Linked DNA regions of Homo sapiens: region 1 is linked to region 2. Evidence: fine-mapped expression QTL. Tissue or cell type: whole blood. Region 2 holds a variant in brackets; the other region holds the start of a gene. All regions are shown on one strand. Distances are from middle to middle.

Region 1 (5,000 bases), 180 kb after region 2:
GGCTAATCAGTGGTTGGAGCCTGGATTTGAACCCAGACAGCCTGGCTCCAGAGCCATCTTAAACCACCACAGCCTCCACAGAATAATTCACTGAATTAGTAGGCAGTGTTAGGATTTTGACTTTTTTTTTTTTTTTGATATGGAGTCTCGCTTGCTCTGTCACTGCTCAATCTCAGCTCACTGCAACCTCTGCCTCCCGGGTAGCTGGAAGCTGAGAAGCGATTCTTCTGCCTCAGCCTCCCAAGTACTGGGATGACAGGCATGTGCCACCACGCCTGGCTAATTTTTGTATTTTTAGTAGAGACTGGTTTCACCATGTTGGCATGGCTGGTCTCAAACTCCTGACCTCAGGTGATCCACCCGCCTCAGCCTCCCAAAGTGCTGGGATTAAAGGCGTCAGCCACCACGCCCGGCTGACTTTTCTTTTTAAAGATAGGGTCTCACTCTGTTGCTCAGGCTGACCTCCAACTCCTGGACTCAAGCAATCTTCCTGCCTCGGCCTCCTAAAGTTCTGGGATTACAGTCATGCTCCACTACACCCAGGCCAGGATTTTGACTTTGCAGGTGCAAATGCTCAGGCTCAGGGATGAAGTGACTTGTTGAAGGACACACTGCCAGTATTTAGGGAAGGGGACATGGGACCTGGGGCCTTCAGGGGCTGGAGAACAGAGCCTGGAGACCCAGCTGTCCCCAGCTATTGTGTGACTTGGGGATGAGGAGGGACTTATTAAAAGAAACTCTATCAAGCAAGGAGATGACATAGGGGCTTGGGGAAGGAAACTTTCTCCACCTCCTTTTCCCATCCGTGGCCCTCAGTTTTCTCATCTATAAAATGGGGGTAATCATTGTGCCAGGCCATACAAACAGGACAGACGTCCAAATCCCCTGAGGAAGGGGACAAGGGCATTCTGAATTGTAAGGAGGCAGGCAGATGTCACCGCGGCAGCCGGACTGTCTCTTGCATCCCAGTCGGCTTCAGCTGGGCCATCACAGCCTTGAGTAAGTGGACACCGAGTGCCCAAGATGCCTGGACGAGGGAGAGCCAGTGAGGAGGAGACGGGGCCACTCTGGGTGATCAGGAAGACTACAGCTCTCAGACCTACGGATGGGGAGTTCCCATGGGCTAGGCCCTGGAGAGCCAAGGCGGTGGTGGGAACAGGCCAGGCACTGGGGAAGGGGACAGGTGGCAGGACCCAGACCCAAGTCTCCAGGCCCACCAGCCCCTAACCTCCTCATATGCAGCCTCTCCTCCCTGCCCAACCCACAGTCAGGCCCTTGAGAGCTTTCACAGAGCCCAGAGCACACAGTGAGTCCTCAGTCAATCTTACTGAGTGAACCTCATTGAACACAGCACTTCTCCTTCCTTATTAACATTTTTTTGGCCACATCTTTATGATGTGGGGATTTACACCGGCCCCTTTGGCAAAGAGGAAACTGAGGCCAAAAAAGGCTTAACAGCTTCTCCCAGACCACATCGCAGAACGGCAGGAAGACAGAGGAAAATGCCAGGCCCTGAAGTCACATCACCTGCCCAGGCAGATGCCCACAGCTCTCTGGGGAGCTAGGCCCAGTGTCCTCACCTCTCCAGCCCTCCCTCCGGCCCTGGCCCCATCGGACACCTGATGCTCCCCGAAAGGTGCACCTCACCCAGTCCCCTCTTCTGGCCCCGGGGCCTGGCACTCGAGGCCCCAGATCCAATTACAGCTCCCCCCACCCTCTCTCTTACACACACAACTCCCCACATTGTTGCCGGCGGAAAGTTATCTGGCCCCTGGAAGCTGCCTGCCTGCGAGGCTGACTCACTCACCTGGAGTGGGCCCCAGAGTCCAGGGTATAGCTGATCCCTGGGAAAAAGCAGGAGCCAGTTCTGGAGCCCTACAGAGGGTGTGGCCAGAAGGCCGTGGATTGGGAGCAAGGGCTGCGAGAGCTGGAATTTTCAGGGCTGGAGGCGGGGGAATGGGGGGTGAGGGGGGGCCTGAGCTTTCATCAGTCTGTTTGCCACCGCCTAACCCAAGCAATGCCCATCCCCAGCTGGACCTGATGAGGAAAGAGTGAGGGCTGTCTGCAGGCAGGTCTTGTTTCCATCCTGACTCAGCAGGCAACCCCTGCAGGCCCCGCAGGGAGTTGGAGGGATGGGGGTGAGGGGTCTTGGGTGCCAGAGAGGATGACTGGGCAGCCTGGGAAGGCCCTGAGCACCAGCCAAAGCTGCCCCCAACGCTCCCTCACCGCTAGTCGGGTCCCCACTGGGCATCTCACCACCCCGGGGAGGGGCAGCCCCTCCAGACAAGGGAGCTCAGGAGGAAGGCAGGAATAGGTGAGGCCAGGCCTGGGACCCCAAGGAACCCACGGGGATTCAGACGGCCCAAGGCCCAGAGCTGGAAGAGCTGATGAAAGAAAAGGCTCGCAGCCTCCCTCCCAGACGCATCCCAGGCCCCCGCCAGACAGACCCTCAGGAAGCTGGGAGGCGGGAATGTGGGGGTCCTCTGGTGCTACTTCCTGGCTAAATGGGACCCAGGAGTTCTCTCTCCTTGCCAGTCGCCTCTCAAGGCCTCCCGCCAGACCAAGATAGCAGAGAGACGTGCTCTTTGGAGACCGCCTCTAGGGCTTCGCTGGCGTGAAAGTTTGCCGCGCCAGGTCTCCGGGTCCCCTCGCTCTCTGACGCCCCTCTGTGCAGCGCTCGCCCGCCGACCCCATCTCCCCTCCCCGCCGCAGCGAGCGGTCCAGGCGTCGGCTACCTGGGTCACCGTCTCCGTCCATCGCTGCGGAGGGCGGTCGCGAGAGGAGGAGCCGGAGCGCTGCGGGCTGCGCGAGTCCCGGGGCGGCGAGTCCCGGCGCTGTCCGCGTCTGTGTCGGTCCCGGCGACCGCGCCTCTTAAAGGCCCCCGACCCGACCCGCCCCGCCCCGCCTCTGGCCCCGCGCCCGGCCGCCCCGCAGTCCCAGCAGTCTGCTCGAGGCCCGGGGCTGCGGGTTCCTCAGCGGACCGAGGAGGCTGGGAAAGGTCAGGAGTCGTTTTTTTTCCAACTGGGGAGGGGTCCGATTTGGGGCATCTCGCAGCTCGCTCCTGGGGGACTGCTGGGAGGAGGCGGCTAGGGGAGGCACGGAGAGGCTGGGTCAGGCCGAGGGTGAGGGGCGGGTGGCCCAGGCGGAGTCGGAGTATAGGAGGTGCCTTCCGCCCCACCCCCCACACCAGGTAATTTTCCTACGACGCGGTGGGGGTGCGTCCCTGGCCCAGCGCTGCGCGGGGCGGGGCGCGGGGCGCGGGGGCGGGGCCTGGCGGGCCGGGGCGGGGCCTCGCTTTCCAGGCAAGCGCAGGTCCAGGCGGTGCAGCTTGGGCGGCCCAACGGATCGTGCCGCGGCGGCCGAGCGCAGGTGACCGGCAGGAGGGGGCGCGGGGGGCGCTGGGGAGGGGGCGCGGCTGGGCGGGGGCTGCCGGGAAGGCTCCTGGGTTCCGGGTCGCGCCGCAGTTGCCGAGGGAGGCCTGGCACCGACCAGGCCCAGGCCGCCGAGCTTGCCCGGGCTGCGCTGCGCGGCTGCGAACGGGGGCTGGGGTCGCCATCGATGTACAGGGGTCCGAGCCCAGACTTTGGGGGGCATTTTAAGGCACAGCGTGGGAAGGGGAGGCTGCAGGCGCGCTGGCGGACTTGGGGCTGGCGGAGCCCAGCCGCGGGGCTGGGGGTGGGAGTGGGGGTGGGGAGATAGGAAGGGCCCTTCCCTGTCGCCCACCCTCTTGCCACTCCCACCTAGGCAGGAGATCATGTCCTCTGAGATCTTGAGAAGGTGGCTGGAGCCCTTTGGACCTCCGCGGGAGGCAGTGATAATTAGCCTCCTCCTCCCATCATGTTCTGAGGATGGGAGAGAGGATGGTGACGGCACCGGAGGCCTGGGGTGCTCTGCCCGGCTGCGCATTATATCCCCATTAAAGACTGGCCTACTGAAAAAGGCTGGCCCTGGAATCAAAGAAGATCCGGGCTTCTTCCCCCTCTGCCCTTATTTTTGACCTTGGGCAGTGCCTTCCACCTCTATTGTGAGAGGCCAGAGAAAAAAATCAGAGCTCACCTTTTATTAAAGTACCTGATGTGTCCCAAGCTCCTTGGACCGCCCCAGTGACCCCTGGAGGTAAGGCATCCATTTACAGAGAAGGAAACAGGCTGGGAGAGGCACCATGCTCTCCCGAGATAAATGGCAGAGCAGGGATGAGGCCTGCAGCATAGCTTTTCAACAGCTACAGGAGGGTGTCCAGAAGCCACAAGCCATGGCTGTGGGGAACATCAACGAGCTGCCCGAGAACATCCTGCTGGAGCTGTTCACGCACGTGCCCGCCCGCCAGCTGCTGCTGAACTGCCGCCTGGTCTGCAGCCTCTGGCGGGACCTCATCGACCTCGTGACCCTCTGGAAACGCAAGTGCCTGCGAGAGGGCTTCATCACTGAGGACTGGGACCAGCCCGTGGCCGACTGGAAGATCTTCTACTTCTTACGGAGCCTGCACAGGAACCTCCTGCACAACCCGTGCGCTGAAGGTGGGGTACAGGCCGGGTCTGGCATGCCTCCAGTACACAGTCATGACACCAGGAACATGTATTGAGCACTTAGTATGAGCCGGGTACTTTGGATGGTTTAACACCTTTACTTCTCTCACAGTAACCCAAAGAGGTAGCTACTGTTAGTGCACACATTTTTCAGATGGGCAAACTGAGGCCAAGAGTGGTGTTTCTTATTCTTACTATACTCTTTTTTTTTTTTTTTTTTTTTTGAGACGGAGTTTCACTCTGTCACCCAGGCTGGAGTACAGTGACACAATCTTGGCTCACTGTAACCTCCACCTCCCAAGTTCAGCCTCCCAAGTAGCTGGGATTACAGGCATGTGCCACCACACCTGGCTAATTTTTTTTTTTTTTTTAGATGGAGTCTCGCTCTGTTGCCCAAGCTGGAGTGCAATGGTGCGATCTCGGCTCACTGCAACCTCCACCTCCTGGGTTCAAGCGATTCTCCTGCCTCAGCCT
Region 2 (7,789 bases):
GGGGAGTGGCCCCCCTAGAGAGTCATCATGCACCCTCACGCTTAGACAACAGACTGTATATAGAAAACACATCAGCCTATGATAAATGCAGAAATAGATGTGTGAAATTGTTCCAGGAGCAAAGAGGAGAGAGAATTGAAGGCTCTCTGGGGGAAAGAGTAGGGTAGGGCGTGGGGGTGGCTTCCCCATGGAAAGGATGTGCTGGGCCCTAAGGATGAGTAATATTCCCACTGGTAGGGAAGAAGGGAAGGAGCACTCCAGGTAGAGGGAGTGGTGTGGGGAAGGGCTGGGAGGCAGGAAGGAGCCGGCATGTTTGAGCAACAATCAAGCCAGGCGGGTCGGGGCTGCTGGGGGTGTGGACAGGGACTGCCAATTAATGGGGTCAGAGAGACGTCATTGAGGAGGAGCAGACCTTGAGTGCCATGTTCAATGTCAGGGCTGTGTCTGTCCCTCAGGCAGTGGGGTGGGGGACATGCAGTGCTTGGAGCAACAGACACTCCCCAAGTGACCGGCAGGAGTGGCTGGAGTGTCTTAGGTCTCCTATGAGCCCAGTGGGGAGCAAGACTTGAATTTGGGGTTTCTACAGGCACCCATGCCGTGGGAACCCTGCAAAGTGAGCAAGTTTCAAGCGTAGGAAGCCCCAAGGCACTCAGCTGGAGTTAAGGAGGAGTGTGTTTTAGAAATAAACAATTCAGTAAGAAAGGGCAAGCTTCCAGCTGAGGCAGGTACAAGAGAAAGCATGAGAGTGGGAAGAGGAGCTCACCTGGGTTGTGGCATTGGAGGAGACTGGCTGAGCCACAGGTGGGACCCATGAACCTTAGAGACATGAGGCTGCAGCGGGAAACCCTTAGGCCTGGGAACCAGTCAGACCCCAGTTCAAAGGGCTTTGCCATTTACTAGCTGTGTGACCTTGGACTTATGACTTAACCTCACTTTCCAAGATTATTGTGGAGACAAAACAATAATATGGCTGGGCTGGGTGCAGTGGCTCATGCCTGTAATCCCAGCACTTTGGGAGGCCGAGGCAGGTGGATCACTTGAGGTCAGGAGTTCAAGACCAGCCTGGCCAACATGGCGAAACCCCATCTCTACTAGAATTACAAAAATTAGCCAGGTGTGGTGGCGGGTACCTGTAATCCCAGCTACTTGGGAGGCTGAGGCAGGAGAATTGGTTGAACCCAGAAGATGGGGGTTGCAGTAGGCCAAGATCGTGCCATTGCACTCCATCCTCAGTGACAGAGTAAGACTCCATCTCAAAATAATAAAATAATAATAATAATAATAATACAGCTGAGGCCAGGTGTGGTCTCATACCTGTAATCCCAATGTTTTGGAAAGCTGAGGTGGGAGGATTACTTGAGCCCAGGAATTTGAGGTTGCAGTGAGCTATGAAGGCACCACTGTACTCCAGCCTGGACCAAAGAACAAGACTCTGTCTCTAAAAATATAATAATAATAATAATAATGATAACGGCTGACATTCACTGAGCACTTCTTATGTCTGGGCATCGATCTCACAACTTTCCAGGCACCCCCTAACTTCTTAGCACAGCATCGAGATGTAGGCACTTCTATTAGCCCCTTTTACAATGAGGAAATTGATGCACAGAAAGGTTAGGTGACTGTCCAAAGTCACACAGCTAGTAAGCGACGGAGCTGGGATTTGAACCCAGATCATTGGTTTCCAGGGCTTGTGCTCTGAACCTACATGCTCTATATATGATATGAGCAATTTGCACATCACACAAAGGGCACATAGAAAAATGTTGGCTATTACCTTGTAATCTAAATCCTACCAAATATTTGGCAGAGGAAACAACTCCTAGGAAATGAGTCTTCAGGGGCCCCCACGGGCTGGAAGGAATATGTTTTTCCAAGTTATTTAGATCCACAATGAGATGGAGTAGGGCAATCACATTACCTGGGGACAGCTATGTGCTGGTCACACTATACACACAGACTTATTTGATCCTCACAGCTGCTCTTTGAGGCAGGTGTTGTCTCCATTTTACAGGTGAGGAAACAGGCTCAGAGAGTTGAGGCGACTTGGCCAACATCACCCAGCCAGTAAGTGACACAGCTATGAATAGACTGAAGTATGTCTGTCCACAAACTCCATATTCTGAGCCACCTGCTCTGCACGCCCCTTTGATTGGATTGAAAATGATGACAACCACAACATCCTTGGGGACAGGGGAAGTCCTCTGAACTTAGGTCCCACATGTGATGGTCTGGTTCCACTTTCCTGAGTCAGTGGAATGTTGACCATCAGCTGACCCCTGGCTGTGTGTACACACATTGGGAAGTAGAGGTTGAGAAGGAACAGAGAATGAAGCACACTAGGGGTGGGGATGAAATCAGCTTAGAGTTTTAAATAAAAATTAAAAGAAAAAAAGGCGTCTGCCAAACAACACATCCAAGATCAAAAGAGAATGGATGGCACCATCTCTGGTCTTTTTGCCCCATGTGTGATGAAGTGCTACTGTCCCCCAAAGAGCAAAGGAGCAGGAGAGTGTGGGATCGAAGTCAGCTGGGCTATACAAACCCTGACCTCTCTGACCTATATTTTCCTCATCTGTGAAAGAGAGATGATTATTCTCCAAGGGTTGTTATGAAGATTAAAGAAGATGGTACAGGCCTTGTCACACAGTAAGTACTCAGTAAATGTTTACTGTCATCATTATCAAAGCAAGGAATGATTGTAAAGGAAAGAAGGCAGGGAGTTTGGGAGTGTGGGAGAGAGACAGGAAAGAAGACAAGGAGAAGGAAGAGGAGAAGGGGTGGAGAAGGAGGAAAAAGAGGTGGAGGAGGAGGAAAAAGAGAAGGAGGAGGAGGAGTAGAGGAGGAGGACTTGCTGCCAGCCCAGCTCTCCAAGCACAGCCAGCTGTGCTGTCCTGGCCTGGGCTGCTCCCCATGTGGCCATTTAGGCCACTCATGCATTCCTTCTGCATCCTGCTGCCAGATGTGGCCCTAGATGCCAGCAAGAACAGCTGTCCTTTGTCGTGCCCAGCTGCAAAATGAGAATGCAGGGATGTTGGGAAGGGCGCAGAGGCTTGGAGGGGTGGCCAAAAGGACAGTACTGTCAGGAGGAAACCACACCACCATGCTCACCCGCCCTGGGCCTCAGTCTCCCCATTTGTGAAATGATAGGCTAGGCGATGACTTGGCATTTTGTGCCAGGTGATGCCAATCCCACGGTGTGTTTACAGCTAGTGGCCCTGGCCCCTGCATCTTGTCCTGGAAGTATGGGCATGACTCGGCCCTCCTGGGTCCTGGAAACTACCCTGCCAGTTTGCAGGATGGCATGACTCTGCTGGTTTCCAGGGAAGAATCTCATCAAATGAAGCCATTCTCAAGTTGGAATGTGAGCTCTGCCTTAGAAAGTTTCCCTTGGTAGA[T/C]TGGGCTCAGAGAGAGGCTGTGACTTCCCTAAGGATGAACAGGGAGATGAGTTTAGTTGTGATTAGACTTAGGGTGAGACCTCAGTGCCACAGTAGGGAGTGCTGAGAGTGGGCACCCAACAGGGACTTAGTTCCATGGAGAGCAGAAGAGTAGAGCAGATAAACAGTATCTACCGCATCAGCAACGTTGGGTTCAAATCCTCTCCATTACTGTGACCCTCACCATGTCTTTCAACCTCTCTGACCCTCAGTTTTTCCAACTGTAAAATGGGAAGAATAATGTCATATAGAACTTGGGCTATAGTCAAACTGCCTGGGTGGGTTTGACTGGGTTGCTACCTGCTGTAGCAACTTACTACTCTCTGTACCTCAATTTCCTCATTTGGAAATGAGGATGATAAGAGGACTTGCTTCATGGGGTGGTTGTGAGTTTGAAGGAAATAATACATACATAGGATCTGGCAATCAAGAAATGGCAGCCATTAATGATTATTGTTGCTGATGTTGTTAGTAGCATCCCTTGCTGCATAAAAAAGTATTTTAACTGCCAGGACACTGATGATCTGCCTACCAGCCCTACATGTCAGTTCAGGGGTCCTGGCACTGAACAGGCTCCACCCTGCCTACACTGAAAGTGCCGGAATAGGAGCTGGCACTGAGGCAGCCCATCAGAGCTGCACAGATTCCTGACTGGGACGATGCCAGAAAAGCTCTTTCTTGCTGTCACTGCTGAGGCTCAGATGGGATTTGGTGGCCAGGGTTAAAGCTGACCTGGCTCCTGGCACCAGTGGGCCAGCCAGGCTGACTGGGGTGGTCAAAGGCACTGGGCAACTTGTGCCGGGAAACCAAAGCCAGAGAGACAGAGGAGCAGGGCAGAGTGGGGAGGTGGGGCTGGGATTCTGTGCTGAGTCACGAAGAGCCCGTACACAGGTAGGTGCACCAGGAACCTTAGATATTCCTAGGAGGGGGCACAGAGGAAGACCCCTACCCTCTGAAGGTTTAAGCAACCCCACTGGGCACTCAAAAGTCAGGTGTGTCCTGGTGTGGTGGCTCATGACTGTACTCCTAGCACTTTGGGAGGCCAAGGTCTCTAAAACTCTGTCTCTAAAAATATAATAATAATAATAATAATGGCTGACATTTACTGAGCACTTCTTATGTCTGGGCATCAATCTTTGGAAGGCCGAGGTGGAACATTGCTTGAGCCCAGGAGTTTGAGACCAGCCTGGGCAACATGGCAAAACCCCATCTCTACGGAAGAAAAAATTAGTTGGGCATGGTGGCCCATGCCTGTAGCCCTAGCTACTCAGGAGGCTGAGAAAATTACCTAAGCCCAGGAAGATCGAGGCTGCTGTGAGTCGTGATCACACCACTGCACCCCAGCCTGGGTGACAGAGAGAGACCTCATAAAAAAAAAAAGCCAGTTGTAACTGCTATTCTTGAACCTGGACCTGCTCAACATCACTCACCCTGAACATCATACTGCCTCCGAGTACTCAACTCGGTGGCTGAGTTCTTGCCCCTCATCCCTTCGCCCTCATCTCCACCCCAGCTGCCAGCAGCCACTGTCCATGGTTCTGAAACACCCCAGGGACAAGGCCTGTGCTGGGACTTCTACTCAGCCTTTCCCAGGAGTTCTGAACAAGATGATGACTTTTATTTTCTGTTTTGATAAAAGATATGTGGTTTCTTTTACCACCGCAGAACCAACAAATGTGTGACTGTGGCTTAACTATTTATGTGCCTGCCTTCACACACTTTTGGCGGTTCCATCACATTGACCACTGCTCCCGTTTACCTCCTTGGAAAATCGGGGATTGCATATTCCCTGTGGCCTCCTACCCAGTCTGAACTCATTCTGTCTTCCCATATTCTCCTGGAAGATCACAGTCAGAGGGGCCCTGGAGCACATCTAGCTCATGTACTCATCTGTCAAATAGAAACAAGAGGCCAAAGATGGAAGGTCACCAAGACCACAGAGCATGTTAGAGCAAATCTAGGGTCAGCATCCTGGCCTCCTAACTGCCCATCTGCCTTGTTCCCCATCACCCTATACTTCTCTGGGGGTCAGGAGATCTCCTTCTGGAGCTTTTTCTGGATCAAACACAAGCACAGCCATTTATTCCAGCCCACTCTGTACCATTCACTGTACTGCTATGTGCCCCTGCAAAGCATGTCCCTTAATCCTCCTCCATGGGAAGGGGTGGCCACTGCCCCCAGCTTACAGGTCAGGACATGAGCTCAGAGATGCAAAGGGCTTCTCCAGAAACCACAAAGCTGGTATGTGACTGAGCTGGGATTAAAACTAGAACTTTTTGGGTATTTATGACCTCCTTTCAGGCCGGTTCTATCAATAAGAACCCTCAGGGTATCCACGTAAAACCCTCAACCTGGAGGTTATAATCTCTCCCCAACAATGGGACTGTCTTTGGCTAATGTCACACTGTCCAGATCTTTGGCAGGATCCTGCTCTTCCCTGCCAATGCCTTGGCTCTGCTATGCTAATAGCCCCTCGGGTCTAACCCCTCCAGTGACTTTTCCTCTTGAAGAACTCAGCAATATTTAGTCTTCTCCAGATGTTGGGGTCAGAGCAAAGACCCCTAGAAATGTGGATGGGGGACAAGGGGGCCGTCTTGTTGGAAGAGGATTATGCGACAGCGTGAATATTGATGAAGCTGTAATTGGCTCCCTCTCTCAGAGCCTGGGTGTCTGCAGGCCCAGGCGCTGGGGCTAATTGTTGCAGGCAATTAATAACTTGGATTGTACTCACTCTGGCACAGGATGCCTGCTCTCTTGGAGGAGGCAGGCAAGGCTGAGAAAGGAGTGCTAGGCCTGGCTGTTTGCAGAATTCTGGGGGAGGCAGGAGGGGAGAGCTGCCATCTGTCCAGCCTCCCCCAGGCCGTGTCTGCAATACCCCTGCCCTAAGCCTAGCCCTGTCAGCCTTCCTCAGGCCCTTCTTCAGAGCTCTCTCTGTTCTCTTTAATTATGAGACCCTCTAATGTTTTCCCCAACCATAAGCTCATGCTCATCTCCTGAACAGAGCTTCAGGGAGGAAGGCGCTGGGGAGAGGAAGGATGGTGTTTCTGGAAGCTGGGAGAACTGGAGTCCAACCCAAGCTCTTCCACTAAGTTTCTATGTGACTTGGAGTCAGAAATTCATTCACCAGGAACTTGGGCAAGCTCCTTGAGTTTTTTTGTGTCTATTATGTCACATGAAGTGCAATCAACCCTGAAAATAATGGAAACAGGGATTAATCATCCTATTATCACTTCCTATATATAGTTATAACTATATCTAGAACTAATTATCAAATGGCTACCTATAAATCTGTGTTCTACTTTAGCTGAAGAGACTATTAAGCAGGAATATTTTTGGCAGTGGTCATTATGACTCCCACTTTGCAGATGAGGAAACTAAGTCTCAGAGAAATGCAGTGACTTGCCCAAGGTCATACTAATAAAAGACACACATAAAAATCAAACCCAGTTTCCTAAATCTAGAGCTCTTTCCAGCATACCCCAGCCTACCTGACTCTGCCCAGTGGCTTCCTGGAGAAGGTGAGATTGGGGCTGGGGGCCAAGAGCGCCAAAGTCAATGCCTTAGCAGATTGAAGAGGGGATTACTTATAAATCCATTTATTCTATTCCCTGGTGCTGGGACAGTGCCTTAATACCATATTTTAAAAGATAAACACTCCCAACCCTCCCCATATGCTCAACCCTCAGCTGCTCACCCATCTGGTGGGAGGACTTGATTTGCATACAACCCCCCTTCACGGGGCGGTGTGGAGGGGTGTCACAAAAAGTGAGATGTGTTATGGTCAGCACTTGCCAAGTAAGCGGTAACAATATGATGAAGAAACTGCTAATGTGTATTTAGTGCTTAATGTGTGCCACAAACTGTGCTAAATGCAATTTTTGCACAGAGATGATCTCATTTATAACTATAACCACTGCAATGAGACAGATATTCTTACCATCCCCACTTTATAGATGAGACAACTGGGGCTCAGCAAGGTGAAGTGACTTTCCCAAGGTCACGCAGCTGGTAAGGGGCAGAACAGAAATATGGCTTTACTGGGAGAGGTAGAATCAGAAGCTCAGCTCAGAGGCTCTGCTTCAGACCTAGTTGGAGAGAAAATAGAAGTAGAAATAAAGGGATAGGAAGAGAGGACAAAGCAGCCCTTTATAGCTCATATCCCTTGCAAAGAAGGCTTTTCAATTAGTTGTGAAGACAGAGTATAAGGGGAGCAGCTTATCGGCACCATGAGGCATTTAAATCAGACCCAGGAAGAACTTCCACCAGACAGCACTGGAACAAGGAGCCAGAGGGGACACAGAATCTTAATCTCTGCAGCCTTTCAGCTGGGTGGATCATTATCCACCAGAGTC

Evidence for each region. PIP is the estimated chance that this variant, and not a neighbour inherited with it, causes the effect.
Region 1: it holds the start of FBXO2, and the variant in region 2 is fine-mapped to the expression of FBXO2 in whole blood (TOPMed, PIP above 0.99).

The regions. Positions count from the first base shown.
Region 1 is chr1:11,651,584-11,656,583 of GRCh38, forward strand. It overlaps FBXO2 (F-box protein 2), which reads right to left and starts at 2,846. Exons shown (of 6, transcript NM_012168.6): 1 at 2,736-2,846. The coding sequence starts at 2,757. FBXO44 (F-box protein 44) reads left to right here and starts at 3,294. Exons shown (of 6, transcript NM_033182.7): 1 at 3,294-3,369; 2 at 4,223-4,517. The coding sequence starts at 4,253. RefSeq lists silencers at 2,796-2,935, 3,176-3,405, 3,456-3,525.
Region 2 is chr1:11,468,860-11,476,648 of GRCh38, forward strand. No RefSeq gene overlaps it. Among named protein-coding and RNA genes, the nearest start is that of DISP3, 6.4 kb to the right of the region's middle. The variant T/C (reference allele first, on the strand shown) is at 3,399.